Homo sapiens: one gene and its partners. The protein of the gene in region 3 purifies or fractionates together with the protein of the main gene of each other region. This does not show direct contact. Each region holds a gene or a part of one and is shown on either strand. Other genes may lie near its edges.

Evidence for each region.
Region 1: the proteins of GMFB (region 3) and RIPK2 purify together in Homo sapiens (co-immunoprecipitation; one large-scale study listed by IntAct). This does not show direct contact.
Region 2: the proteins of GMFB (region 3) and HDHD5 purify together in Homo sapiens (co-immunoprecipitation; one large-scale study listed by IntAct). This does not show direct contact.
Region 4: the proteins of GMFB (region 3) and CORO2B purify together in Homo sapiens (co-immunoprecipitation; one large-scale study listed by IntAct). This does not show direct contact.
Region 5: the proteins of GMFB (region 3) and MCCC1 purify together in Homo sapiens (co-immunoprecipitation; one large-scale study listed by IntAct). This does not show direct contact.
Region 6: the proteins of GMFB (region 3) and ACADL purify together in Homo sapiens (affinity purification with mass spectrometry; one large-scale study listed by BioGRID and IntAct). This does not show direct contact.
Region 7: the proteins of GMFB (region 3) and ALAD purify together in Homo sapiens (affinity purification with mass spectrometry; one large-scale study listed by BioGRID and IntAct). This does not show direct contact.

The regions. Positions count from the first base shown.
Region 1 is NC_000008.11:89,767,687-89,771,712, forward strand, and holds part of RIPK2 (receptor-interacting serine/threonine-protein kinase 2), read left to right. Parts: intron 1-2,085; coding exon 2,086-2,243; intron 2,244-4,026.
Region 2 is NC_000022.11:17,142,111-17,146,136, reverse strand, and holds part of HDHD5 (haloacid dehalogenase-like hydrolase domain-containing 5 isoform 2 precursor), read left to right. Parts: intron 1-967; exon of another isoform or gene 968-1,019; coding exon 1,020-1,113; intron 1,114-3,005; coding exon 3,006-3,039; intron 3,040-3,928; coding exon of another isoform or gene 3,929-4,026.
Region 3 is NC_000014.9:54,486,033-54,490,709, reverse strand, and holds the start of GMFB (glia maturation factor beta), read left to right. Parts: upstream 1-1,729; 5' UTR 1,730-1,782; coding exon 1,783-1,785; intron 1,786-4,677. UniProt on the Homo sapiens protein: This protein causes differentiation of brain cells, stimulation of neural regeneration, and inhibition of proliferation of tumor cells.
Region 4 is NC_000015.10:68,711,372-68,715,397, forward strand, and holds part of CORO2B (coronin-2B), read left to right. Parts: intron 1-170; coding exon 171-335; intron 336-2,553; coding exon 2,554-2,670; intron 2,671-3,187; coding exon 3,188-3,292; intron 3,293-3,843; coding exon 3,844-3,940; intron 3,941-4,026. UniProt on the Homo sapiens protein: May play a role in the reorganization of neuronal actin structure.
Region 5 is NC_000003.12:183,068,261-183,072,286, reverse strand, and holds part of MCCC1 (methylcrotonoyl-CoA carboxylase subunit alpha, mitochondrial isoform 1 precursor), read left to right. Parts: intron 1-929; coding exon 930-1,077; intron 1,078-1,166; coding exon 1,167-1,288; intron 1,289-4,026.
Region 6 is NC_000002.12:210,222,263-210,226,843, reverse strand, and holds the start of ACADL (long-chain specific acyl-CoA dehydrogenase, mitochondrial precursor), read left to right. Parts: upstream 1-1,396; 5' UTR 1,397-1,580; coding exon 1,581-1,657; exon of another isoform or gene 1,658-2,431; coding exon of another isoform or gene 2,432-2,445; exon of another isoform or gene 2,446-2,529; intron 2,530-4,581. UniProt on the Homo sapiens protein: Long-chain specific acyl-CoA dehydrogenase is one of the acyl-CoA dehydrogenases that catalyze the first step of mitochondrial fatty acid beta-oxidation, an aerobic process breaking down fatty acids into acetyl-CoA and allowing the production of energy from fats.
Region 7 is NC_000009.12:113,388,523-113,391,413, reverse strand, and holds part of ALAD (delta-aminolevulinic acid dehydratase), read left to right. Parts: intron 1-480; coding exon 481-616; intron 617-737; coding exon 738-821; intron 822-920; coding exon 921-1,009; intron 1,010-1,585; coding exon 1,586-1,641; intron 1,642-1,727; coding exon 1,728-1,815; intron 1,816-1,889; coding exon 1,890-1,976; intron 1,977-2,307; coding exon 2,308-2,437; intron 2,438-2,891.

The DNA of each region.
Region 1 (4,026 bases), on a different chromosome or scaffold from region 3:
GACATTTTCTTAAATGATCAACCAAAATTCCTTCCTGGTTGCTTCCACACATTGATCCTAGTTCAACTTTTTGTGATAAACAGAATAAATCCAATTTAGTTACTTCAGCAAGACAGCCCTTTCAATATTTGAAGATAGCTATGAGCTGTCTCCCAAACCCTCACGTACAAGTGCATTTTATCCATCTCCCTGATAAATACCCTTTAGTTCCTTCAACTCGTTTTCTTATTACATGGATTTTAATCCTTGGTGCTATGTAGATGCATCATTTTGTTTAAATCTCACTTAAATGTTGATCGTCAGAACTGAACACAATACTATTTTTGGTGCGGTTTGATGAATGCAGACTTTAGTGAAAGTGTCATTTCCTTGGCCCTAAATACTTAATAGTTCCTTAATAATTCATCAGCTTTCCAGGGGTAGTCATATCACATAGTTCAAATTGGGCTTAGTGTCAACAAAAAACCCTTGGAGGTTCTTTTTGCCACGTATCGTTGCTTAAGCCACCTCTTCTTAAGCAACAAAGTACACAAAATAATGTACTTTGCAGAATACTTTCTAGATATGATCAAATTTTATCTTGTTAGATTGGAGCAATTGCTTCAGTCTCTTAAGACCTTTTTGAATGTTATTTCTATAATCCAAAGGTTTTAAGTTTCTCTCCAAGTTTTGTGTGATGCTGAAATTTAATTAGCTAATTTTTTGTATCTTTAAGTCATGATTAAATATGAACCAGTACAGAGCTTGAATCAGAGCTGTATCACATGGCCATAAGAACCTTCATCTGGGTCAATATCAGTCCTTTTGTTAATCCGCGCTTTTGGAGAACACTCATTCAGTTTGTCTGGAATACTCCTAAAAGTGCTATTATACAGCCCATATTTCTTCATTCTGTCCTTAAAAATTTTTCTGAAAGTCTTTGCTTAACTGCTTTTCTCAGCTGTTCTCATGACTTAGTCATCTTGGTCCTTTTCTGTGAATTCAATTTTAAAATTCTTGATTATTTTTATTTTTTTTCTTAAATTGACTCTTTTATTGTAGCAAATGAATGAAAAATTCATTTATTCTACCCCTCCTTTTTGGGAATGGAGGCCATAATTTTTTTTATCTCAAATTCATCTAAATGCTAATAAAAATTATGTATTTTGTTAAAATTGGTAAAAAATATAGGAGGTAAACAATGGAAACAAATGATGTGCTGCATGGAGCTCATTTCACTCTGCTGAATTCTAAAGTATGCAGTAAAATATTTTAAGTAATTTCAGTGTCTTTTAGGATTTCCCATACTCCCTTGTCAATTAAATATTATTTCTGTTCTTACATTTTGTCTTACATTTTTAAAAAATAAAGTAAAAAATAAGGAAGCTTTTAAATATTTAGTTATAAGATACTGTATAATATGTGCATAAGATTTACAACTGAAGCAAAACTGTACAGGACATATCAAAGGCACAGAATATTGTCACTGATAATTCTTTAGGCACCCATTGTATTGGACATAAATATGTTTTCTTTGCAATTATACTGTTTCCATGAAATACTTCTTTTAGTGATCAGCATAAAATTGTATAATAATTACCTTTACAATTTTGAGATTTAGTGTATTTCTTAATTTAAGGATGCTACCTTTAGGGCATTATTAATACAACTGTATAAACCAGAATTGTAAACAATGACCAGTGACAATTGCATGAGATGTGAGTAGACTTGGCAGCTCTGTGAGATGTAGGAAGCACATGGTATCAAGCTATATGTCATGAAAAGTAAGGTGTGCAAGGTACACACTCATTGAGAATATCAGACAAAAAATGCCTCTGCTCAATTTTCAAAAATTAGTCTCTCTTTTGAAATTTGTAATGTTATATTAAACTTTAACTCAGTATGTATTGCTCCTAGAGTTATTTGGCTCAGCAGTGTGGAATTTAATTTTGTAAGAAGTTGGGGGAATATACAGAAATAAAATATTAAAATATATTACATTTTCTCTGGTTTGATATCTAAATACAGTGAATATACAAAAAGATAGTTGACTTTTGGACTTTTTAAAGAGGAAATTTCTTAATTATTTGCTCTTGTCCCTTACAGATTGCAGATTTTGGTTTATCAAAGTGGCGCATGATGTCCCTCTCACAGTCACGAAGTAGCAAATCTGCACCAGAAGGAGGGACAATTATCTATATGCCACCTGAAAACTATGAACCTGGACAAAAATCAAGGGCCAGTATCAAGCACGATATATATAGGTAGAGTAAAGTTGCTTCTGCTCAGATTTAACCTTGTCTCAGACACAAAATTAGTCAACCAGAATTTTGAAGCTACATTTTAAACTGTGATTTTTATTCTTCTCTCATAATTGTGGTGAAAATAAACTTGAGGCCCCACGGTGATTAATATTTTTCAAATTAAGGAAATTTAATGATTTGCTTTAAGAAACTTTTACATCCTTTAAGAAATTTTAAAGCATCTCTTCTTATCCTATCAATTTATAATATAATAGTTAAGGATTTTTATCATATGTGACTTGGAAATGCAGAGGGAAACAGTGGTTCCTAACATTTTAGCTTTAGGTTTCTCAACCTGTTCAACCTTTTAGCTTTTGATATCTATATATCTTTTTAGATAAATAGACAAACTCTTAATCACACTGGGGATATTTCTATTTAAAGAATCCCTAATATTTGTATATGTGTGAATTTTTTATACAACAAATCAATGGGTTTGATAAGATCATATTTTCATATTTCAGATGCATATTACTTATAATCTCATAATGCAGTAATAAGCATAACACATTGTTATTGACACTGGTTATTTAACCAGAATAAAAGGAAGATGATTATTTACACAGGTTTAGGAGATGGGGACATTCACCTCATGTATAAGTTACTCTTATCTCTTTTAATATACTAATGAATGCAAAAGCAGACTCTCTAAGTTTGCTCTGAACACATTTTATAGTCCTTTAAATGGCTTTTTGCCATCTTTAATAAATAATTTGTTAATGAATCATTTTAGGAATGAATGCTATATCTCTACCAGAAAACTATATATTTAATTAAATTGCATATTCCTTTTCTTCAAAAGCATTTTAATTTTTGTTATTTCTCATTAAAACCAAAGCCAGCCAATCCATTTTAGTGGCTGCACTAAAACAATTCATACAGTGTCTTTTACATTCACATTGTATGAATATAAGAAACTGTCCTTTTATATTTTGTTTTCTGATATTTTTAATTCATTCTGAATGATGTACTGAGGGGAGGAGAAATGTATTTATAGCTTCCTAAGGTAGAGATCATGTTCTACCCAACAATTCTTAAAGCTGGTTTGATTCTATAAAAATGGGCCAATAAATCTGCCAGTCATTCATTTTGTGAATTTTCCCTTTATGTTCAATTTCAATATTCTCTGTCAGGGAAAAATGAGGAAATATTATTCCTTCATTTGGGTAGGAATTCCCTCTGTACTCCTCGCTCTCCCTGTAACACAAGGTGTTAGTAGTAATAAATTCTATGTGTCCATTTTGAATGCATGGTTAATGTTGGGGTGTGGCAAAATTCTTATATCCTATTTAACCATTTATTCTAATTATAAACTCTATGCAGCTTAACCCTGTAATTGACATCTGAAGTTAAACTGTAGGCAAGATATTTCTACTACCAAAGAAGATAGTGCTGAGAGCAGAAAAAAGGCAGTAGAATAGAGCTCCATGAGACAATTTTTTTCTTGTTCTTTGTTCTTTGTGAAAAATAATATCATTTAATTAAAGGGCATAGCTTATCTGGGTGTCCAAGAATTAAATCATCCACAAAAAGTTAATCTTGCATGTAACGTTAAGCTTGTATTACAGTAATTTCCTAATTTTTTAACTTAAAGTTGATTTTGTTTCCAAACTACATGAGCATTTATCATCTTCATTGTATACAGTAATTCTTTGCTGCCTTATCACTTTGAAAAATGGTATCTTCAGTCAGCTTTTAAAAATAGTGCTATTTTAGTTTATTATGCAGAGTTCATTTAAAATAT
Region 2 (4,026 bases), on a different chromosome or scaffold from region 3:
GCCAGGTTGTCGGGAACCTTGGAAGTAAACTTGAGGAGTCTGACCGACTTCTCAGGGCAGTGGAAAGCAGGGCACGCTTTATTGCTGATGGGGCAATCTGATAGAATCAGGATTTTGGGGAAATTCATTTTGAGAGTAATCAAACCATGTCCAGTTAAGATTGCAAGTTGGAATTGAGGATAGGAAAATGGAGGCAGATCTTAGAGGAGATAGGCTGAAGCTGGCTTGCCCCTCCCCAAGGCCGCCTCTTCCTTGATGATTTGGGTTCATCCTTTAAGATTTTAGCTCCAGCCCTACTTCTCCATGACTCCTCTGGACTCCCCAGCCCACTGAGGAGTCTCTTCTGAACTCAGCACTGACTAGCAGCACTGTTCTCAGAGAACACTGGTTTTGATGGGCTCTGAATGTGCTAGCTCCTTGGGGACAGAGTTTTTTGTTTTTTTTTGAGACAGGGTCACACTCTGTTGCCCAAGTTGGAGTGCAGTGGTGCAATCATAGCTCACTGTAGCCTTGACCTCCTGGGCTCAAATGATCCTCCTGCCCCAGCCTCCTGAGTAGACGACAGGTGTGCACCACCATGCCTAGCTGACTTTATTTGTAGAGACAAGGTCTCACTATGTTGCCCATGCTGGCTGGAACTCCTGGGCTCAAGCCATCCTCCTGCCTCAGCCTCCCAAAGTGCTGGGATTTCAGGCATGAGCCACTGCACCCAGCTGGGGACAGAGATTCTTATGTGCCTTTGCCCCCTAGGCTGTGCCCAGCATAGGACCTGGTAGCTGGCATGTGCCTGGTGACTGCTGGTGGGTTACCCAGGAGCTGCCCTCTCTACTCTACCTGTGCAGTTACAGCCTGCCTGCCAGCACCTGCAGGATTTGTGCCATCCTTGCTGGGCTCTGCTTGGTGCCCTCCTGCCTGGCTTGATCAGGAGTGGGTTGTGTTCCCTTCACTTGTGATTTGATGCATTCAGAAAGGCATCTTCCCCAAGAACTGTCCAGCATTACTTCCTGAGCTTGCTCCAGACTGGGCTTCCGAAATGTCGTCACCGTGGATGAGCTGCGGATGGCCTTTCCTCTGCTTGACATGGTGGACCTGGAGCGGCGGCTAAAGACCACGGTAATAAGGAGCATGGGTTGGGCTGTGTCTTCATCCTTCACTCCTCCAGTGCCCTGCATTGGCTGTGTCGCTGACCTTGCAAGCCCTCCTGCAGAGCTGTGATTTGTCCATGCTTCTTTGGAGGCACATCTGGCTAAGGGTTTTGTTCCCTGAATTTATGAGAATGGCCCAGAGGCTGGCTGCGGTGGCTTACACCTGTAATCCCAACGCTTTGGGAGGCTGAAACAGGAGGACTGTTTGAGCCCAGGAGTTCAAGACCAGCCTGGGCAACATAGTGAGACCCCGTCTCTACAAAAAAATTTAAAAAATTGTCCAGGCATGGTGGGTCACACCTGTAATTCCAGCACTTTGGGAGGCCAAGGCGGGTGGATCACCTGAGGTCAGGAGTTCCAGACCAGCCTGGCCAACATGGTGAAACCCCGTCTCTACTAAAAATACAAAAATTAGCTGGGCACAGTGATGGATGCCTATAATCCCAGCTACTCGGGAGGCAGAGGCAGGAGAATAACTTGAACCTGGGAGGCAGAGGTTGCAGTGAGCTGACATCACACCATTGCACTCCAGCCTGGGCAACAGAGCGAGACTCCGTCTCAAAAAAAAAAAAAAAAAAGCCACATATGGTGGCGCATGCCTATAGTCCCAGCTACTCAGGAGGCTGAGGCAGGAGGGTTGCTTGAGCCCAGGCGTTGGAGGCTGCAGTGAGCTGTGATCACTGCACTCCAGTCTTGGCGGCTGAGTGAGACCCTGTCTCAAAAAAAAAAAAGGAAAAAGCCCAGAGAAGCGAACGGCTTTATGCCCTGTCCTCTCTGTATTGCTTATAATTAGCTGGGAACCCGTTTCAGAGCCACAGCATCCCGTCCAACAAGGAGTTCCAGACTTACTGGCTGGCCTTCCCAGTGCTGCCCAGGAGAGCTGGCCATTGTGAAGTTAGCAATCCTGAGGCCCGGCACTGAGCTGCCCTCGGGAGAGGTAGCTTGCTTGCAGAGGAAGCACTGGTCAGTCTGCACATCTGCCCAGGTGCCCTGTGCGCTGGGCTCATTTTTGAGCACTGACTTTGTCCCCTAACTCATCTGATCCCTTGGTGATCCTCTGCAGCATGACTGCCATCTCTTGAGGTGCCCGTTGGCTCACTTTCTCCTCATCGCACCGTCTGTGTATCACATAGCCCAGGTCTTGAGTCAGACCATTCTCACAGTTTGACGACATGCAGTTATAAACAGATAACTTACTTTTTATTTGCTGATATAGCTTAAGTCCTTCCTCCTCCAGCGCTTTCTGATGGAACAGAGCACTTCCTCCCCTGTGAGGGCTTTCTCCCTGACCTGTGCAAGTTCTGTGGAGAACCAGAATGTCAGAGTTGGAACAGATCTCGGAATAGCTCAGAGACAGCCCCACACAGGGGAGTGACCTGTCCCGGGTCACATAGTTGTTTAGTGGCAGAGCCAAGACTACCATGGCCTGGGGATGGAGTGGACCCTCGAGGCTGGTCGAGTGAAGCTGCCTGCTCAAGAACCGACATGAGGAGAAATGGCCCATCAGGCGTGATGCCGCCTTCGTCTCCACGGCCTCACCTTAGCTGCCTGATTTTAGACTCTTGCTTGGCTATATCTTGTGTCCTCTCCCACCAGAGAAAGACAGCTGACCACCCTTCCTCCTGGTGACTTCACCCATGGTGTCCTGCCTGTTCTGTGGCCCCACCTGGCCATTGTCTTTTCGCCTTTCTTGCATCTTTCTCAGTCCTCTCCAGCTTTCCCTTGGCTTGGGCTTGACCACGGGTGTGGGGTCTGTGGAGTGTGTCTCCCCTCCCCTCCCAGCACCCTGGAGGTGGGGTTGTGGTTCTCCTGGAGTGGAAGGCGACTTGTGTTGATAGCCTCTCCTTTGTCTCTCTGCAGCCCCTCCCGAGGAATGACTTCCCCCGCATTGAAGGTAAGAGAGGTCCTCTTTGATGAGTTGTGAGGTCTTTTCTCCGTCTCCTCTCTGGCCCTCAGGCTGTCTCAGTGTGACTGCCTGCAGCCTGGTTCAGCAGCAAGGGGCCTTGGAGTCAGGACACCTGGGCTCTGGTCTGGATCTGCCACTTACCACCTCTGAGACTGTTGTTAGTCTTTCCTTCCCCATGCCACTCACTATTCCAGGAAAACCGTAAGCTTAGAGAATTTTAGTGGTGGAAAGACACCTAGAGGTGATCTAGTCTAGTGTTTCTCAACTTTTAAACCCAGTTCTCCCCTTTTTATACCAAGAACATTGGAATATCCCCTTTATTATCCTGAAGTGAAATTCTTAGGTAATATAACTTCTGTACACACATATTAAAAATTAGTTCAGTATAAAGCCCTAACTGTAATAGGGGGATATAAAAGGAAACATTTTTAGTAAGAAGATAATGTATTTCAGTATGTAGTAGTTATCCAAGAAGTAAAATGGTTGCACTAAACAGAATCACCATGAATGTTAACAGCTACAAATGCAGGCTGATGTGTGTTTATAGGTGTGACAGGCGTGTTTTACCGGTGACTCAGAAATTAGGGGCAGCATTGCCGTTGGTCAAGTGATTTTCCAAAATAGGTAACAGTTCTTGGTAGAGTTTTGAAAAGGCAAAGTACAGTCTTCTCTTGACTTACACGATAGTTGTATTTTTGGAAAAATTGATGTTTATTGAAGCTGTACAAAAATGCTTTGTGATTGTATGTAAAATAGAATCGTTCAAGTAATTCTGAAAAGGTTGTTCACCTGTGTGGATACCAGGATATCAGGTGGGACATTCAAATGTTATGAGGACATGGGAAAGTTTTTTCTTTTTCTTCTTGTTGTTTTGTAGAGACGGGCTCTCACTATGTTGCCCAGGCTGGTCTCAAACTCCTGAGCTCAAGCAATCCTACCACCTTGGCCTCCCAAAGTGCTGGAATTACAGACACA
Region 3 (4,677 bases):
AGTCCCTTCAAGTCTGTAGAACAGTCGGTGAGAGATTTCCATGCCCCCCGGGGTTAAGCAGGGATGACAACCCTGTTCAGCAGGAAGTAGCTTTAGAAGATAAGATCTTTGGCCCTTTCTCCTTAAGAATAAGGAAGGTAAAATCTTATAAGGGGAAATGAAAAACAGTAGAAATGGGGCTTGGCTTCAGCTCACCCACACTAGAGCATTTTTTTCATGCATTTCCACTCATGACAAACCCACACCACTACCTTACTGCTAATAGTCCTTTTATTTAAAGAATTCCAATGACTGGCCTTAGGAGATAACCAAGGTTGAGAGTGTCCCACCTTGGAGAGGAATGTTGAACAATTGATTCACAGCCTTGTTGCCGCAAACCAGACCATTGGGTGGCCCATTACTCAAGACAACCCTGGCAAACAGATAATGCTGACCTGCATAAACTACCCCTAATTTGTTGTGCTCTTTTAGGAGAGTCAGTCAGGGAATTCTCTCATTCTCTTATGCTGCCTCCCTTATGCTCCGGCATAAGCTCCAATGAAGCCTTGCCTGGAGAAACTCTTTTGGCCTCAGGTCAATTTGCATTGAGAGACCAAGAACCCATGGTCATAACAAAATGAGGTACTGCCCCAGGCAGTTTGTTTTATTGAAGGTACCTGTTGAATCCTAGAGCCTAAACTTTACTTCTCCCAAACCACTTTCTTCATGCATTCAAAACTGGACTTGTTCCACTAAGTCTGCATCTGGTACAGAGACTTCTTGATGTTTACTTAGGCAGTGGCCCATAAGAGTGCTCATTGAAACACCAATCATCATTCATTCATACTTCAATAAATAACTTGTATGGAGAAAAGAGGCTGGGCATGGTGGCTGACGCCTGTGATCCCAGCGCTTTGGGAGGCACACAGGAAGACTGTTTGTGGCCAGGAGTTCAAGACCAGCTTGGGCAATATAGGGAGACTCTATCTCTACAAAAAAATTTAAAAATTAGCCGGGTGTGTGGTGGCACACGGCTGTAGTCCCAGCTACTGGGGAGGCTGAGGTAGGAGGATTGCTTGAACCCAGGAGTTTGAGGCTGCTGTGAGCTATAATCGTGCTACTGCATTCCAGCCTGGGCAACAGAGCGAGACGAGAGAGAGAGAGAAGAAATGTGTGTGTGTGAGAGAAGAGAGAAGAAATGTGTGTGTGTGTGAGAGAGAAGAAATGTGTGTAAGAGAGAGAGGGAAAGGGGGAGGGAGAGAGAGAGAAAGAGAGAGAGAGAGAGAGAGAGATTGATTAACCAAGTCCTGGAAGGCAGCCGTGGTCAGAAGTGGGGTTCTGGAGAGGGTGGGAGGAAAGGAGGTGTGCCTAGATTTGAGGGAGATCAAATTTGGAAGGTAGGCTGCGGTCAGTACACACATTTACCATTGAAAACATTGATGTCACCATTAACATGCTCTCAGAGCTTGAAGACTGCGAAAAAGGTCCGGAGAACTGGCATGACTTTTAAGTATGCACCTTGGGTTTGTTTCTCACTTGCAGCCAGGCAGAGCGTCCTCCTCTAGAGGGAGCAGGGAAAAGAAAAAAAAAAAAAAAAAAAAAAAAAAAAAAATCAGGCGATCGCATTCTGTCTAATTTTGAGCCGCGCCTTTTGCCGTCCGCCATCACGTGCCGGCCCGCTGAGGCCGCGTTGATAGGTGGGGGCGACTGGGCCAGGCGCCGGGGCAGGAAGGGAGGCGGCCGCCGTGCCATTCTTAAAGGCGCCCGAGTGTAGGCGACAGGCCGCTGACGGCCGGAAGGAAAATGGTGAGTTGCCGCTGGGAGGGCGGGGGCCGGAGGGCTGGGCGAGCCGGCCAGCCGGGTTTTCCCGGTTTCCGGAGCCGGCGGCGGCGGGCAGCGCCCAGGAGGGCTCGGCGGCCGCTTCCGCTCCCAGCAGCTGGCCAGTGCCCATAGCTAGAGTACTTGGCCTCTGCCGCCGCCACCACGCCTCAGGGCAGCATCTTCCAGCTGGGCCCGGGGTGGACCCGCCCAGCGGGCCATGGGACTAGGGTGCGGCCACGAGCAGGGGGGTTGGGGAGGCCCCACGCCAGGTCCTTCTGGTTGGAGGGCTTCAGCTTCTGAGCTGTAGGTTGGAGGGAAAGGGGTCTGCCCCATCGGAGGGCTCCCTCAATTCCTGCTTTCCCTGCCAGGGCCGTGGCCAGGTTCCAGGGGTTGGTGGGCCCCGAGCATCTTCCACCTGGCGGCGTTTTGGGGGAGGACTCGAATTCCGATTGAATTCTCTCGGCCTCACCTTAGCTTCTTTCTCTCTGCTCCTTTCCCTAGCTTCCTACAGAGGATTTCTCCTTATCTTTGCTTTCCTATGGCAGTTGGAAACCTTTCGACCCAAAGCTTTGGCACTGGGCCTTAAAGTAATTGTCAATAACTTTAGTTTTGTTGGTTCTGGGGGCTGTGGCTTCTGTTCTTACATGGGATGGACCCCAAGCATAAAAATAAAGTGGAAAATTAAATAAATCGCCATCAAGGATCTTTTGGATCCATCCCATTAGGTTTTAAAATATGGGTAAATTTCATTAGAAACAACAAAACACTGCTCTCTGTGACCATCCACTCAATTCTCAGCCCACTTTCATCGAATAGATCTTGTCATGGTCACTGAATCGAATGGATTCTTTTCAGTTTTCGTCTTCTCTGACCTTTTAGCTGCATTCCAGAGTGTTATACTCTCTTGTTTTTGAAGCATTCTCTTCCTTCATTCTTCCCCTTTGGCTTCTGGGATACAGAGCTCCTCCTACTTCTCCTATTGGTCCATCTGTTTCCCTTTCAGACTATTCTCCTTTCCCTGGACAATGCTCGAAGGAGTCCCAGGTTTCATCCTAATCCTTCATTTTCCATTCTGTATTCTTCATCCTAAACTATGGCTTCAGTTACCATCTATATTCAGATGACTTGTGAATTTACAGCTCAGAAGACCTTGCTTCTGAGATCCAATCCAGATCTGTATGTACTTTTTTTTCTTTGAGTCGGAGTTTCACTCTTGTGGCCCAGGCTGGAGTGCAATGGCGGGATCTCGGCCCATTGCAACCTCCGCCTCCCAGGTTCAAGCAGTTCTCCTGCCTCAGCCTCCCAAGTAGCTGGGATTACAGGCATGTGCCACCACGCCCGGCTAATTTTGTTTTTTTGTTTGTTTGTTTTGAGATGGAGTCTCGCTCTGTCGCGTTGGTTGGAGTGCAGTGGCGCGATCTCCGCTCACTGCAAGCTCCGCCTCCCTGGTTCACGCCGTTCGTTCTCCCGCCTCAGCCTCCCGAGTAGCTGGGACTACAGGCTCCCGCCACCACACCCGGCTAATTTTGTTTTTGTATTTTTAGTACAGACGGGGTTTCACCGTGTTAGCCAGGATGGTCTCGATCTCCTGACCTCGTGATCCACCTGCCTCGGCCTCCCAAAGTGCTGGGATTACAGGCGTGAGCCACCGCGCCCGGCCCTAATTTTGTATTTTTAGTAGAGACGGGGTTTCACCATGTTAGCCAGGATGGTCTCGATCTCCTGACCTCAAGTGATCCACCTGCCCCGGCCTCCCAAAGTGTTGAGATTACAGACGTGAGCTACCGCGCCTGACCCCAGATCTATATATTAATATTTCAATATTTAGTTACCATTCCCCTGGGAAGCTTTTCCTCCACTTGGTCTCCTCAAAGCCACCTCAGTTTGTCCAAAGTAGAACTCATGCCCTTTCTCCTCAAACCTAGTCTTCTGTCTGTTATACAAGACAATCTGTTATACCAGCCAGAAGCCTAGTATATCTGGTAACCCTTTTTTTTGCTTACTCACACCCCACCCCCACCCCCAATATCCAATCTGTCACCACCTCCTTTGTAGTGGTTAAGAGAGTGAGTTAAGATAGGCTGCCTGGGTTGAATCCTGGCTCCACTAGCTATGTAATTGGGGAAAGATACTTAACCTCTCTAAACCTTAGTTTCTTGCAAAATGGGAGTAATAATAGTATCTGTTTCGTGAGATTGTTTTGAACATAAAAGGAAATCTATGTAAAGGATATAACAGTGTTTCTCTCATAGGGTCTGATACATGTTAACTATTATTAGGACTAAATGGGAATTTTTTGCTATTGAGTTGTTTGAGATCCTTGTATATTCTGATTATTAATCCTTTGTTGAGTGGAGAATTTGCAGATATTTTCTCCCATTCTGTAGGTTGTCTCTTCACTCGTTGTTTTCTTTCCTCTCAGAAGCTTTTTAGCTTGATATGATCTCATTTGTCTATTTTGCTTTAGTTGTCTGTGCTTTTGAGGTCTTACTCAAAAAAATCTTTGCCCAGACCAATGTCCTGAAGCAATTGCCCAGTGTTTTCTTCTAGTGGTTGTATAGTTTCAGATCTTACATTTAAGTCTTTAATCCATTTTGATTTGATTTTTGTATATGCTGAGAGTTGGGGTCTGTTTGTTTTTGTTTTTTTGTTTTTGTTTTTGAGATGGAGTCTCGCTCTGTCGCCAGGCTAGAGTGCAGTGGTGCAATCTCGGCTCACTGCAACCTCAGCCTCCCGGGTTCAAGCGATTCTCCTGCCTCAGCCTCCCGAGTAGCTGGGATTACAGACGCTTGCCACCACGCCCAGCTAATTTTTGTATTTTTAGTAGAGACGGGGTTTCACCATGTTAGCCAGGCTGGTCTCGAACTCCTGACCTCA
Region 4 (4,026 bases), on a different chromosome or scaffold from region 3:
GGGATGTATCAGCCTTTCCATATAGAACTCAATGACCCCCTCCTGCACCCCAGCACACCCCAGGCCCTGCATGGGGCGCTTCTCCCAGGGCAGTCAAGTGTGCACTGGGGACAAACACCCCAGGACCCTAGCAGCCACTGACCCTGCCTCCCATGCATCTGCCCTCGCAGGTCCTCATCTGGAACCTGGATGTGGGTGAGCCGGTGAAGATGATTGACTGCCACACGGATGTGATCCTCTGCATGTCCTTCAACACGGACGGCAGCCTGCTCACCACCACGTGCAAGGACAAGAAGCTGCGTGTGATTGAGCCCCGCTCTGGCCGTGTTCTGCAGGTGGAACCCTACATTTTTTGAGATTGAAGGGGAAGGTATTGAGGGCTGGGGCTCAGCTTTCAGCAGGCCTGGAAGAAAAAGGCTGTGCCAGCCCCCTTCTCCAGTGCATCTCACTGCACCTCTGTTGAACAACCTTTCTCTCTCCTGGGCCCTTCTCAGCTCATAGGAACCCTGCCTTGTTCTGGGTGGGGAGGGACCTCATACCCTTTCCTGTCCCCACTGCACCCCCTACCTCCAGACAGGATTCTTCTGGCTTGCTCTGGGGGCTGAACTGGTGACACCCTTCAGTGCATACATCCCCAGGTGTTACCCAGGTCCACCACAGGCACAGGAGGAGGAGACACTGGACTCACTGCCCAGCCACTTGATAGGATGAGCCTGAGGGAAATGGCTAGGGTGCCAAGGCTGATGGTGAACTTAGCTCCACTTTTGGTCTTTGAATCTCCTGGGTCTTGGGTTTGAGGAAGGGGTTAAGTGCCATTTGGAAGTAAGAAATTACCATTTTTTGAGCACCTGCTGTGTGCTGGTCATGGGGAGAGATGGAATGGAAAATATGGATGATATCTGAGGTTTGCCTTCTACACAAGAAGGGATTAATGCTTGATCTGGGTGTGTTTACCTTGGAATAGTCCAATATTACAAGACCAGAAAGTTTTCTAGTACTATAGGTTGAGCATCCCAAATCCAAAAATCCAAAATCCAAAAGACTCCAAATCCAAAACTTTTTGAGCACTGACATAACACCCAAAGGAAATGCTCATTGGAACATTTCAGATTTTGGATTTGGGGATGTGGGAAGCTCAACTAGTAGGTATAATGTGAATATTCTGACATCGGAAACAATCCAAAATCTGAAACACTTCTGGGCCCAAGCACTTCAGATAAGGGCTACTCAACCTGTACCACTACAAATAAGAATAATGAGAGTTGCTTAGCATGATTAGTGTTAACTGACATCTGCTAAGAGCTCACTGTGTGGCCTGCACTGTGCCCGGGGCTCTGCACATCATCTCATTTAATCCTCAGGACAACCCTCTCAGCTGGGTGCTGTTACTCCTCTCATGTGATACGTGAGAACACTTAACCTTAGCGAAGTTGGGAGACTCGAATCTCACAGTTCCAGGAGGAGCTAGGATTCAAACCCAGAGCCCATGCCAAGCAGAAAGAATGTTTATGAACAGAGAACCCCCACCTCCAATTCCCAAATGGGGCCATGAGCCCAGGGAAGGTGAAGGTCTTCTCTTGGGCTACACTTTTTTGGTGGAGCTAGAACTAGAGTTCAGAGTGTGTGACGCCAGCCTGAATATGTGCACTGCCCCATTGGCCTCTTTTCTGACTTGCTGCCAACTTACCTGATGCCGAGGACTGTTGTGTGTTAGGAGGAAATCAAGTGTCACGAGCCAGTGGGCAGGAAAGGAGGCCCAAGACAGCTCAGTTAAGGAGGCACTCCCTGATGAGGCAAGCTGTGAAGCAGTGATGGGCATGAGTCTCTTGTCCTCCTGAGCCTCAGTTTCCTCACCCTCAAAATGGGGATAATGATTTCTTCCGATAGATATTGTTATGGGGATGAAAAGCAATGCCCCTGGTGAGAGCTCCTGAAGTGGTGTAGCCCCCAACTGGACTTGGTGGACGTTGGCTCCCCTCTCGCTCCCTGTTCCCCACATTCTCTGGGAAATGGCAGAGAAGGCATCTGTGGAGCCATTGCTGCACAGTGCTTAGAACAGTGTCCTATGGCTGCTGTAACAAATGCCCACAAACTAGGTGGCTGAAAACAACAGAAATGTATTCTCTCACCATTCCAGAGGCCAGATGTCCCACATCAAGGTGTCAGCAGGACTGTACTCCCTACAGATGCTCTAGGAGAAAACCCATTCCTTGCCTCTTCTGGGGGTTGCCGGCTCCCGTGGCTGGTGGCCACATCACTCCAGTCTCTGCCTCCAGGGTCACACACCTTCTCCCCTGTGTGTCTCTGTAATCTTACCTCTCTCCCACAAGGACACTCATGATGGCATCCAGGATCCACCTGGATAATCCAGGGTAATCTCATCTCCAAATCCTTAGCTTAACCACATCTGCAAGGACCCTTTTCCAAATAAGGAAATAATTGCAGGGGCCAGGGCTGAGGACATGGGTGTATCTTTTCGGGACCACCATTCATGCCACTGCAGAACCCACATGTTGGGGACCCTGGCTCACCACCTCCCTCTGTTCCTACTAGGAGGCCAACTGCAAAAACCACAGAGTGAACCGGGTGGTGTTCCTGGGGAACATGAAGCGGCTCCTCACGACAGGGGTCTCCAGGTGGAACACAAGACAGATTGCCCTCTGGGACCAGGTCAGCCACGGGGAGGCCTGCTGGGTTTGGGCTAAAGGAAGCATCGTTGCCTCGGAGGTCACTTCCTCAGAAAGTCAGGAGCCTGGGCCCGCACACCAGCTTCTCATAGCATTCCCAGTGGAGAAATCAGACAGAGACCCCCAGAGGCCGAGCTTGGGTACAGAGGCTTCAAGGAACAATGTCGGCCACACCTGCAAGATGTTCACCCTCTTTTTCCAGAGTGGGGGCTGAGCTCCAGAGAGATTGAGAGACTTACCTGGGGACACATAGCAAGTAGCAGGTTTGGGGACAATGAGAACAAGTCCCTTGCCTCCTGTTTGTAAGACCCTTTCCACTGCCCCTGGCTGCTTTTCGTGACAAGAAAGTCAGTCTTGCCACCACCCATAGGACGGGCTTTTTAACATCTAGGGGAGGTCTTAACATAAAGTAGTTGCCATCCTAAGAGGCCTTCCTGGGATTTGGGGAGGGGTATGCCATCCTGCCTGCAGAGAGGCTGAGACCAGCTCTTCTCCCTCAGGAGGACCTCTCCATGCCCCTGATCGAAGAGGAAATTGATGGGCTCTCTGGCCTCCTGTTCCCCTTCTATGATGCTGACACCCACATGCTCTACCTGGCTGGAAAGGTAGTAGGAGGTGGGGGAGGGCCCGGGGCAGCCTGTGGGAGAGCCCTACCCTCAATGCACCCCTGCACCTGCCCCACCCCCTGGAGAGTAGCCAGCCTAACCTTCCAAGTTCCTGGGCCTCACCTTTCCCATCCACACCTGCCCTCAAGTCTGACACCCATTCTTACTCAAGTGTCTGCTACCAAGAATTCCTTCAAAGGTGAGCTGGAGCGGGCTTTTACATTGGAATAAAGATCAGAGCCTGCAGTGTAGTCAGTGATGAATGATGGAATTTGAGATACCCGCCAGGAGATCCTTGGTGAATACAGCCTTGTTTGTCAGAAAGGCTGTCTACACACACACACTCACATCAGCCCATCCACCTCCACCTCTCCACCCGCAGTGAGTCCCCTGTGGTGCACCCACTAGGAGCCTAGAAGCCAGGTTTCCTTGGTTTTTTTAACTGCCCATGAGGCACAGGGGAGAGCTGTCTTCAGCTGGCTCCTGGGACCAGGCCCTGCTCTGCCCTCCCTACCTGCCACCTTCCTCAACTCCATCTCTCCTGACCCCAGGGTGATGGAAACATCCGGTACTACGAGATCAGCACTGAGAAGCCCTACCTGAGTTACCTCATGGAGTTCCGCTCCCCAGCCCCGCAGAAAGGCCTAGGTAAGTGGCCCCGAGGCTGCCACAGCTGGTGTGCTCATGGCACGGGAGGACATCTGGCCCATGGGTCACCCCCTCCCTTAAGTGGA
Region 5 (4,026 bases), on a different chromosome or scaffold from region 3:
TAATACCAGTGTTTTGGGAGACTGAGGCAGGAGGATAGCTTGAGGCCAGGAATTCAAGACCAGCCTGGGCAACTTAGTGAGACCTTGTCTCTCAAAATTCTTTTTTTTAAATCAGCCAGGCCTGGGCACAGTGGCTCACACCTGTAATCCCAGCACTTTGGGAGGCCAAGGTGGGAGGATCACTTGAGCCCAGAAGTTTAAGACCAGCCTGGGCAACACAGGGAGACCCTGTCTCTACAAAATTTTTTAAAAATTCCAGGCATGGTGGCACGTGCCTGTGGGTCCAGCATCTTGGGAGGCTGAGGTGGGAGGATTGCTTGAGCCCAGGAGATCAAGGCTGCAGTGAGCTGTGATCACACCATCATACTTCAGTCTGGGTGACAGAGTAAGACCCCATCTCAAAAAAAAAAAAAAAAATTCAGCTGGGTATGGTGACACACACCTGTAGTCCCAGCTGCTTAGGAGGCTGAGGCAGAAGGATCACTTGAGCTCAGAAGTTTAAGGCTGTAGTGAAGTATAATTGCACCACTGCACTCTGGCATGGGCAACATTGTGAGACCCTGTCTCTAAAAAAAAAAAAGAAATAGTTTGTTTTACCTATAATATTTTAATTCTACCCTTCTGTTGTCATAGGCATAAGTTATTTATCTGTGACATAGAGAAATTCTATTGAGTTACAGAAAATACTTAATGTTTCTAATCAATATATTAGTATTTTGGGATTAAAAAATAGGGTGAGATGAGCTACCACATGAAATGAGGGAAACTAACTAATAGACATATTAAATTTGTATTATTTTGTCGTCTCAGACTCGATGTTTTCTTTAAAGAGTTCCATTGTAATTTATAGACTGGGCTATATTTATGTTTGTCTTGAATGAAATAATTTGTAGAATTTGGGGCATGTTGTTTTCTTTCCCACTCTAAAGCACATCCAAATCCATAATGGCTGCTGCTGGAGTACCTGTTGTGGAGGGTTATCATGGTGAGGACCAATCAGACCAGTGCCTGAAGGAACACGCCAGGAGAATTGGCTATCCTGTCATGATTAAAGCCGTCCGGGGTGGAGGAGGAAAAGTAAGATTGTGCATGCTTGTGTTTGCCAATTCAGGCTTGTCTTCTTTGTTTTATTTATGTTGTAGTCATAATCATCTTTTCTCTCTTAGGGAATGAGGATTGTTAGATCAGAACAAGAATTTCAAGAACAGTTAGAGTCAGCACGGAGAGAAGCTAAGAAGTCTTTCAATGATGATGCTATGCTGATCGAGAAGTTTGTAGACACACCGAGGTGGGTTGGCCTTATTTTTCTGACTCAGAGTTTAAAAATTAAATTATAAAAATAATGCATGCACATTCTATAAAATATAAAACTGTAGTAGTATATAAGTATATTATTACAAGTTTCCCAGTTCTGTCCTGTGATGTAACCACTGATTGTAGGATGGTATGCATTCTTCCAGCCATTTTCTATGTGAATAGAAACCTATATACATATACATACAGCAAACAAAATACATACCTAAGAACAGTGAATAGAATTTTTTTTTTTTTTTGGACGGAGTCTCTCATTCAGTTGCCCAGGCTGGAGTGCAGTGGCACGATCTCGGCTCATTGCAACCTCTGCCTCCCGAGTTCAAGCGATTGTCCTGCCTCAGCCTCCTAAGTAGCTGGAATTACAGGTATGCCCCACCATGCCTGGCTAATTTTTGTGTTTTTAGTAGAGATGGGGTTTTCCCATGTTGGTCAGGCAGGTCTCAAACTCCTGACCTCGTGATCCACCTGCCTCAGCCTCCCAAAGTGCTGGGATTACAGGCGTGAGCCACTGTGCCCGGCCAGTGAATAGAATCTTATACACTAATATTATATCACAGACATCTTTCCATGTCAGTAATTGTAGATCAGCCTCATTCTTTTTGTTGGTGACCTAGCGGTTCTATGATCTTGATATACCATTAATTCATTCAGTATGTTTCTTGTTGATGAAATTTAGGGTTTTTTTTCAATATTAGCAAATTATTGTAATAAATTCAGCTATATTTATAGAACTCTGTCAGTTGAGATGCTCAGGAAATGGAAGTAATTTTCTAAATTGAATTACAAGTGATATGCTGTTAATAGGAGCTAACACTTACATTGCACTTACCATGTGCCAGATTTTAAATATTTTACACATGCTAAATAATCTTGCTGTCCTTCTAATTCTAATATAATTCTTACAACAACCTCATTAGGTAAGTACTGTTTTCATTTTACAGGTGAGGACACTAAGCAACAGAATGGTTGTGTTGTGTTACTTTTCTGAGGTCACTCAGCTGTTAAGTAGTAAAGCTGAGATTTGAACCCAGGCACTTTGACTCCAGAGTTCATATCTAAGCCACTGCACTAAGCTACTTCTCTGGGTACCACTATAGCAAATGCAGTGTGAATCCCTATTTTTTTTTCTGGAATTTTATTTTCATGTTTGTTGTTTAAGATGCTGATTATAAAGTTTCTCATTTCATAGATTTTTATGACAATTGTTAAATTTTATATATATATGTGTGTGACCTGTAAGTCAAGTGAAAAGAATAATTTATTTGGGAACCATGACTGGAAAGAGATTTACCTTGAAGGTAACAGACTTGAAACTTCAGGCCCTTCTTTGACATTAATCTCTTCCAAGACCCTGACCTAATTTTGTATTTGCAGTTTTGTATTCTTCTCCTTAGAGAAGACCCCCAAATTGTTTTTTGTTTCAGGCCCTATAAAACAACTGTCCTGAGCATGGCATAGTAAATGAAATTCAATTAAGGCAAAAAAAAAGGGGGGGGCATTTCTAAGGTACATTGAAGGCTTCCTTTCAAGAAAGAATAGGCTAGCCATCCAAATCAGCATGCTCTTAAGTTAGAATTGTGGAGACATCAATAGCTTATTTCAGTAACTTATTTCAGAGACATCAATAGCTTATTTGAGTTATTATGTAACTCCATGCCTGCAGCATTTTTTGAATATGTAAGTTCTTTACTTATGAAATGTTAGCCATACATTGCGTCACATTATAATTTATTCCCCCAATAGCTGGAAAGCCCCTGGGAATCAAAGACCTGGTAGTATATACATTTTTATTTTTTGTATATATTGCCTGGCATACTACTTTCCTTGTAATAGGCATCAGTAATATTTTTTGAACTATAGAAGTAATATGAATACATTACAAATTTTTGGAAAATGCAGAAGATGGAAAACAACCCATAATTGTATTCTCCTAATTATTATTAATATTCTTATATACAGTCATGTGTTGCTTAATGACAGAGATACATTCTGAGAAATGCATTGTTAGGCAATTTCATTGTTGTGCACACATCATAGAGTGTCCTTACACAAACTGAGATAGTATAGTCAACTACACACCTAAGCTATGGTATAGCCTATTGCTCCTGAGCTACAAACCTGTACAAACGTTACTGTATTGAATACTGTAGGCATTTGTAACACAATGGTAAGTATTTGTGTATCTAAACATCTCAAAACATAGGAAAGGTAATGTATTGTGCTATTATGTCACTAAATGATAGGAATTTTTCAGCTCTATCATAATCTTATGAAATCACCATCCTATATGCAGTCTGGCATTGATGGAATGTCATTGTGTGGCACATTGTGTGACTCTATTTCTATTCTGTATTTCTAGTAATAACTTCTTTTTAATTGAAAGCAAGTTTATTAAGAAAGTAAAGGAATAAAGAATGGCTACTCCATAGACAGAGCAGCCCCAAGGGCTGCTGGTTGCCATTTTTATGGTTATTTCTTGATGATATGCTAAACAAGGGGTGGAGTATTCTTGCCTCCCCTTTTTAGACCATATAGGGTAACTTCCTGACGTTGCCATGGCATTTGCAAACTGTCATGGTGCTGGTGGGAGTGTAGCAGTGAAGACGACCAGAGGTCACTGTTGTTACCATCTTGGTTTTAGTGGGATTTAGCCAACGTCTTTACTGCAACCTGTTTTATCTGCAAGGTCCGTATGACCTGTATCTTTTGCTG
Region 6 (4,581 bases), on a different chromosome or scaffold from region 3:
CACAGGCAGTTATTTGGGTTAAAGAAGCTGGCATTTTCATGGGGTTTAGAAAGGACCGTGTAGTCCATGACATTTACTACCAGGTATCAGAGGAAAAGCATAAGCAGTTCCTTTTCTTGAACATTTGCCTTCTAATTGAATAGGCATTGGAATACACAAAGTAGAGGGTTTTTTTAAAGGATTTGTTCTTTCTTTTATCTACTACAAAATATGAGTATTTCTCAATGATGACAATAATAATTACCATTTATCGAATGTTTATTGTATTCCTGTCTTTGTGCCAACCACCTGACCTCCGTTATCTGAAAAATCTTTCCAACAACCCTATGACATAGATATTGTTATTCTTCATTTACAGGTGAGTAAATGGAGGTTTACATTTGTATGGAACATGTTCTGCTACTTGAGATAATGGGAATAGGAGCCTAGGAGGGCTAAAAGCAAGGAGCCAGCAAGTCTAGACACATTCCAGAGGACATTATGTCAGTCATGCAAGCCCTGCCTCAGCTTTCTTCCCAACCCTCAGCCTTTTTTCCCAACAGTATATAAATAATGTGGTGTTCCTTTCAATACAGGTGTCTCTAATGCTAGTTTGTTCCATTCTTGGTGAAGTTAATTTGAATCACATTTGGTTAGCATGTTTATCAGTTTTTTTCTACTGAGTTTCCTTTTGTGAAGTAAGAACAAATATGTTTATGAATGTAGAGTTAGCTGTGCTAAAATTAAATGAAAAGTCAAGCAAACTACCCAGATAGTTTAAGCCAATCACCCAGGATTTCATGAACCCTTTGAGCCATTTATGTTTCCCTTGAGGGATATTTCACATCTTTTACCTGAGAGTTCTACAGGGCATGCTTTTATTAGTTGAAATGTCACTGAGGGCGAGAGTAATTGTTCAACGGATGTACTTGAACTTGGACATTTAAGAATTAACAGAACGGGCTGGGCGCAGTGGCTCACGCCTGTAATCCCAGCACTTTGGGAGGCCGAGGCGGGAGGATCACGAGGTCAGGAGACCGAGACCTTTCTGGCTAACACGGTGAAATCCTGTCTCTACTAAATCCTGTGTCGGATTAATTCGTTCTACTTGCTATTACCAATAAATAGCATGGGCTCCCAGAGCTATGCCTGGCTAACTCTATCACCTTCAAGGGTTTGCTCAAACTATTCAGCCTACTTTAAGTAAATCAATTTCCAAGGTTACAAAATAAACTTCACGTACATTTTTATGGTTAGGTATTTGCGCGTATTTGGGGGCTCCATAGCTTTCATCCGTTACTCAAAGCGCTTCAGGACGCTAAAAAGGCTCAGAGCTGCTTCGATAAACAAGAAAGAATGCTGCAAGCAAAGGCAGCAGTTTCGCTGTAAAATCCTATTGCTGACAGCCAAGACGGGCGTATTCCCTCGCGACCAGCCTGTGGCGTGGTTGGGGCTCCGGAAGGGCGCGCGCGAGCGCTTTTTTGGGAGGACACCACAGGTGGACGCCTCAGCTGATCGTCCTCCCTCCCGGGGACCCTGCCCCGAGTCGCCGAGTAGCCGCAGAGTCGCCTCCGTCGCCCCGCCGCCCCTGTGTTTCGGACATGGCCGCACGCCTTCTCCGAGGGTCCCTACGCGTCCTGGGCGGCCACCGTGCGCCGCGCCAGCTGCCCGCCGCGCGGTGAGTGCCAGCCGGGACTTCCGCGGCTGCAGGCCGGGAGGCTGTGGGGTGGGGCAGCGAGTCACTCCTGTCGCTGGCTTGAAGCAGGGCGGTGCGCGCGCGGCTGGGAGTGCTCCCCAACTCCGGCGCCGGGCTAGAGCTGGCCTCCTTTCCTGGATCCCGCGGACTGGGTGCAACCAGCATCTGGGCGGAGGAAAAAGGGGTGTCAGCCGTGCCGCCCCGAGAACAGACCGCCGAGCCCACGTCGGGGAAAGCCGAAAGATTTCTCCAGAAGTTCATTCCGGAGCCCCAATCCAACCCGTCTAGTTCAGCGGCCTGCAGTGGGACCCGGGAGCCTGCGTTTTGGGAGGAGGTGGTCACCCCCTGGGCCCGGCTGCAGGAGCGCGGGCTGCGATCTGTGTCCCAGTTCGAGCTGTGAACCCGGCGTTCCCCACGGCTTAGACTCGCCGCGCGGTAGTGAACTTGGGACCCGGACTCAGTGCCCGGGCTGCGGCGCGGACCAGAATTGTCCAGGACAAACTGGGCTAGAAATGACCTGGCGAGGGTTCCATCAAACAAGGAAATTAGCTTTAGATATATCAACAAATCTAACTAAATACAGAGGATTAATGAAGACAGAGTCTAAGTAGTTCAGTGACTACTAAGGTGGTGTTTATAATATGATCAAAAGTTTCAGATACTGTCTGATGCATAAAATCTATTCACTGGGTAAACAAATTGGAAGCATGGAGAATTCATTATTTAATAAGGGTGAAGGAACTGGCAAATTTGCGAATGACAGCATTGGTGTAAGCTACTCTAATTTTATTTGAGAGCTATGAAACAAAATGCCTACTTTTCCTGGGGAGATTTGGGAAGACGTCACTGAGAAGGTGACTTTTCTTTAGGATACATACTTAACTCTTCCTTGGAACATTATAAGACAGTGATCCTCAAACTTTTTTTTTTTTTTTTTTTTTTTTGAGACAGAGTCTCACTCTGTCGCCCAGGCTGGAGTGCAGTGGCGCGATCTTGGCTCACTGCTGCAACCTCCGCCTCCCGTGTTCAAGCAATTCTCCTGCCTCAGCTTTCCTGAGTAGCTGGGACTACAGGCACGCACCACCACACCCGGCTGATCTTTTTAGTAGAGACGGGGGTTTCACCATATTGACCAGGCTGGGCTCAAACTCCTGACCTCGTGATCTGCCCGCCTCGGTCTCCCAAAGTGCTGCCTCAAAACTTTTTGATAACAGGGCTCCCTTATGCTCTTAAACAGGACCTCAAAGGACTTTTGTTTATGTAGGTTATATCTATCCGTCTGTCGTTATCGAAAGGTATCTACATAACTGAGAAACTTTACAGATATTTAGTTTATTTAAAAGTTACAATAAGAAGCTCATTACATGTTAACATAAATAACAGTTTTTATGAAAAATAACTTTTCCTAAACAGAAAAAAAGTGAAAAGAGTGACATTGTTTTACATTTTTACAACTCCCTTAATGTCTGGCATAATAGAAGATAACCAGATAACTATATCTGCTTCTGTTTTATCCATTGGCGTAAGTTAGTTTGATTGAAGCATGGCAAGAAAATCTACCCTCAAATAGAGAACACTGGAAAAAGGGAGACCTGAGAGACCCTCTGAATGGGCTGGGGGGCTACAGTTTTGTTGTAACAGCTTTTTTACCTTTAATGTGCAAAGGAATCACCTGGGAATCTTGTTAAAATACAGCTTCTGATTCAGTGGGTCTGGGATGGGGCCTGAGATTGTGTATTTATAACCAGCTTCTAGGTGTGTGGAAGGTGCTGGTGGAGATTGTCTCCCTTTTAAAATGTAGGAGACTTTAAAAAAACAATAATAGCCTAGCCAATAAGATTAGTTGCAGTTTATTGCCTTAGAGAAAAAAATGCCAATTTTTCCATTACAGATTTCTTCATCTTTAGACTGAGAAATACATGTTGCAATAAACTTGCTGCCAAGTGTTTTGATTTTCTTCCCTCTGCATATTCTCTCTTGACCACCTTTGACTGACCTGAAAGTCTTTATTCGTTTGGCATTTCTTTTGCTTTCCTATGTCTTTATATATTTTACTTAAAAATATTGCAGAGATTTCCTTAACACAGTACAGGCTATTCAATTTTAAGATCCAGTAAGACTCGATTTTAAATTCTGGCTCTATTGTTTACTCATTATGTTGACAAATGATTCGGTGTCTTACAGCCCCAGTTTCCTAATCTCAGCATATTTTTTTCCTGAGGGAAACTCTCAAGTATGGAAAATCTATATGGACAAATACGTGCTTTATAATTTTATCTCTACTAGCAAGAAAAAGGAGCCGATCATTTCCATTATAGGGATAAAGTAGATGTTAGTTTATTTGATGCAACAGGACAATGGTCAAGGTCCCCTGCATGTCCTGGTCCCCTGTTATCTCTTCTTCCTAGAATCTCTGGCCTCATCTACTCTTCTCAGCCCACTCTGGCTACAATTGCCTCCTTGCTCTTTCTAGAACACATCAGACACCATTCAGACATACAGCCTTTGCTCTAGTTGTTCTTTTGTCCTAAAATTCTTTTATTCTAGAGGTATGCCTGGCTAACTCTATCACCTTCAAGGGTTTGCTCAAATCTCACCTTTCTGGTTTAACCTACCCTGACTGCAGCACTTTTTTTTCTTTTCCTTTTTTTTTTTTTTTTGTTTGTTTGTTTGTTTTTAGTGACAAGGCTCACTATGTTGCCCAGACTGGTTTCAAACTCCTCAGCTCAAGCAATCCTCAGGCCTCGGCCTCCCAAAGTGCTGGGATTACAGGTGTGAGCCACCAAGCCCCGCCTACTACATTATTTCATACGGCAACCTCTGTCTCTGCCTCCCCCCAGGCACATACTCCTGATCCCTTCTCTACTTTTCTTTCTCCATAATACTTACCACCTTCTAAGGTATTA
Region 7 (2,891 bases), on a different chromosome or scaffold from region 3:
TGGACAACATGGCAAAACCCATCTCTACAAAAAATACAAAAGTTAGCTGGGTGTGGGGGTATGTGCCTGTAGTCCCAGCTACTCGGGAGGTGGAGAGGTGGGAGGATTGCTTGAGCCCAGAAAGTCGAGGCTGCAGTGAGCCAAAATCGCGCCAGTGCACTCTAGCCTGGGTGACAGAGCAAGACCCTGTCTCCAATACAAACAGAAAAAGGAAGGGAGGTTGGGCAAAGGTGGACTGAGGGTCCACACTGACTGCACCCTCACTCCCACATTGTGCTGGCCCTGGGGCCACAGGTGAATGGACGTGGTCTTTGCCCTTAAGTCAGCACCCATGTAGGGTCAGTCCTCTGTGCTTCCTTATCCAGGGGCTGTGATGATGAAGGAAGGAGAAGGCCAGGGCTATGCTCTGTGATGGCTGTCATCCTGCCTTCCAAAGCTACATGTAATAGACACACTGCTTTGTCCCTCCCCTGCCCCTAGGACGAGCGGGGTTCCGCAGCTGACTCCGAGGAGTCCCCAGCTATTGAGGCAATCCATCTGTTGAGGAAGACCTTCCCCAACCTCCTGGTGGCCTGTGATGTCTGCCTGTGTCCCTACACCTCCCATGGTCACTGCGGTGAGTTCCCTCCCTCCCACCAGCCCTGCTGCCACCCACACTCCTACTGCCCACTTCTCAACAGGGTGGGGACAGGCCAGGGCCCAAGGTGCTCCCCAAAACCCAGTCATCTGTCCTGAAGGGCTCCTGAGTGAAAACGGAGCATTCCGGGCTGAGGAGAGCCGCCAGCGGCTGGCTGAGGTGGCATTGGCGTATGCCAAGGCAGGTGAGTGAACCACCAGCAGGGATGGGCACCTCTGGGTCAGGAGGTGGCAGAGTGGCTAGGAGGGCCCCAGAGTTCTGAAGGCCACCCTCTGCCCCCCAGGATGTCAGGTGGTAGCCCCGTCGGACATGATGGATGGACGCGTGGAAGCCATCAAAGAGGCCCTGATGGCACATGGACTTGGCAACAGGGTAAGGGCAGGGAATGCAGCACAGGGCTGGCAGGAGATAGTCTGCACCAGCCCTGCCCCCGTGTCTGCTAAGAATCACAGAACTGCCGGGCGTGTTGGCTCACACCTGTAGTCCCAGCACTTTGGGAGGCTGAGGCAGGTAGATCACTTGAGGTCAGGGGTTCAAGACCAGCCTGGCCAACATGGTGAAACCCCATCTCTACTAAAAACACAAAAATTAGCTGGGCGTGGTGGCAGGCGCCTGTAATCCCAGCTACTGGGGAGGCTGAGGCAGGAGAATCGCTTGAACCCACGAGGCAGTGAGCTGAGATCATGCCACTGCACTTCAGCCTGGATGACAGAGCTAGACTCCATCTCAAAAAAAAAAAGAATCACAGAACTGAAGACAGTGCTGGATGAGGCTTTGGGGAACCATTTAAACCTCTGGGCCTCTGCAGGGAAATCAAGCCCAGCACTCCAACAGGACCAGAACACAGGCAGTCTCCTTCCCAGCCTAGGTTCTTTCTCTCCCTGCCACATCACCCTGGGATACCTGGCAAGGGCCGAATAAGCCAAGACCTCCATTGTCTCCCCATAGGTATCGGTGATGAGCTACAGTGCCAAATTTGCTTCCTGTTTCTATGGCCCTTTCCGGTGAGCAGGGGTGGGCAGGGGTCTGCTGTGAATCCCTGGCCCTTTGGCCCAAAGCTGGAGCCCACCCTGATGACTCTGCTTTGCAGGGATGCAGCTAAGTCAAGCCCAGCTTTTGGGGACCGCCGCTGCTACCAGCTGCCCCCTGGAGCACGAGGCCTGGCTCTCCGAGCTGTGGTGAGTGACTAGGACTTGAGCCCCACCCTCAGCCCCCTCCTAGGCACCACCCACATTATACCCTCATCCCTTAGGACCGGGATGTACGGGAAGGAGCTGACATGCTCATGGTGAAGCCGGGAATGCCCTACCTGGACATCGTGCGGGAGGTAAAGGACAAGGTGAGCACAGGTACGAGGCAAAGGGGGCTCAGGGGGCTGGGACAGAGTTTTCCACAGACTCTGGAATCTCAGAGTTGGAAGCAGTTTGCCCTTAAGCATGCATCCTCTCCTCCCCTTCCCTGCCCAGGAACCATCGTGGCCTTCTATGTCGGGGCTTGCACGAGCCTCAAACAGCCCTGCTTTAACAGTTCAAGAGTGGGCCAGGCTGCCAGCCGCAGTAACCCAGGACACGGGGCTCAAGATGGTCACAGATTGAGCAGGGGGGAAGGGACGCTTCCAGAGCCACATCCACCCTCCATTTCAGCCTGTCTCCCTGTCTGCTTCCCTGCAGCACCCTGACCTCCCTCTCGCCGTGTACCACGTCTCTGGAGAGTTTGCCATGCTGTGGCATGGAGCCCAGGCCGGGGCATTTGATCTCAAGGCTGCCGTACTGGAGGCCATGACTGCCTTCCGCAGAGCAGGTAGGCAGGCAAGGGTGGGGTGTTTTGACCTGCGCCACAGGGACTGATAAGCACTCTGCCTAGATTGGGGAACGACGTCCTGAGAGCTTGGGATCTTATTCCGGGAATTACTAGTGATCTAAACAGACACACACTGAGGAAGAGATATGGAACTGCAGCATAGAACACGGCCCGGTGAAGCAAGCAGAGCCCTTCATTTTTGGTTGTGAGAACGTGGGCAAGCCACTTCTCTGAACCTCAGTGTCCTCACCCATAACTGGATAACTGGGGATAAGATACCTGGTGCGTGGTTGTCCTGAGGATTAAATGAAGTAATATCACTCCATAAAGGGGACTCATTTTGTTAGAATTGCACACCAGCATGGGAAGGAACTTGCCTCTTACCTATTTCCTTCACTGTGCATTTTATTCTTTGGTAAACTGAGGCCCCAAAAGAGGAAATGACTTGCCCAAG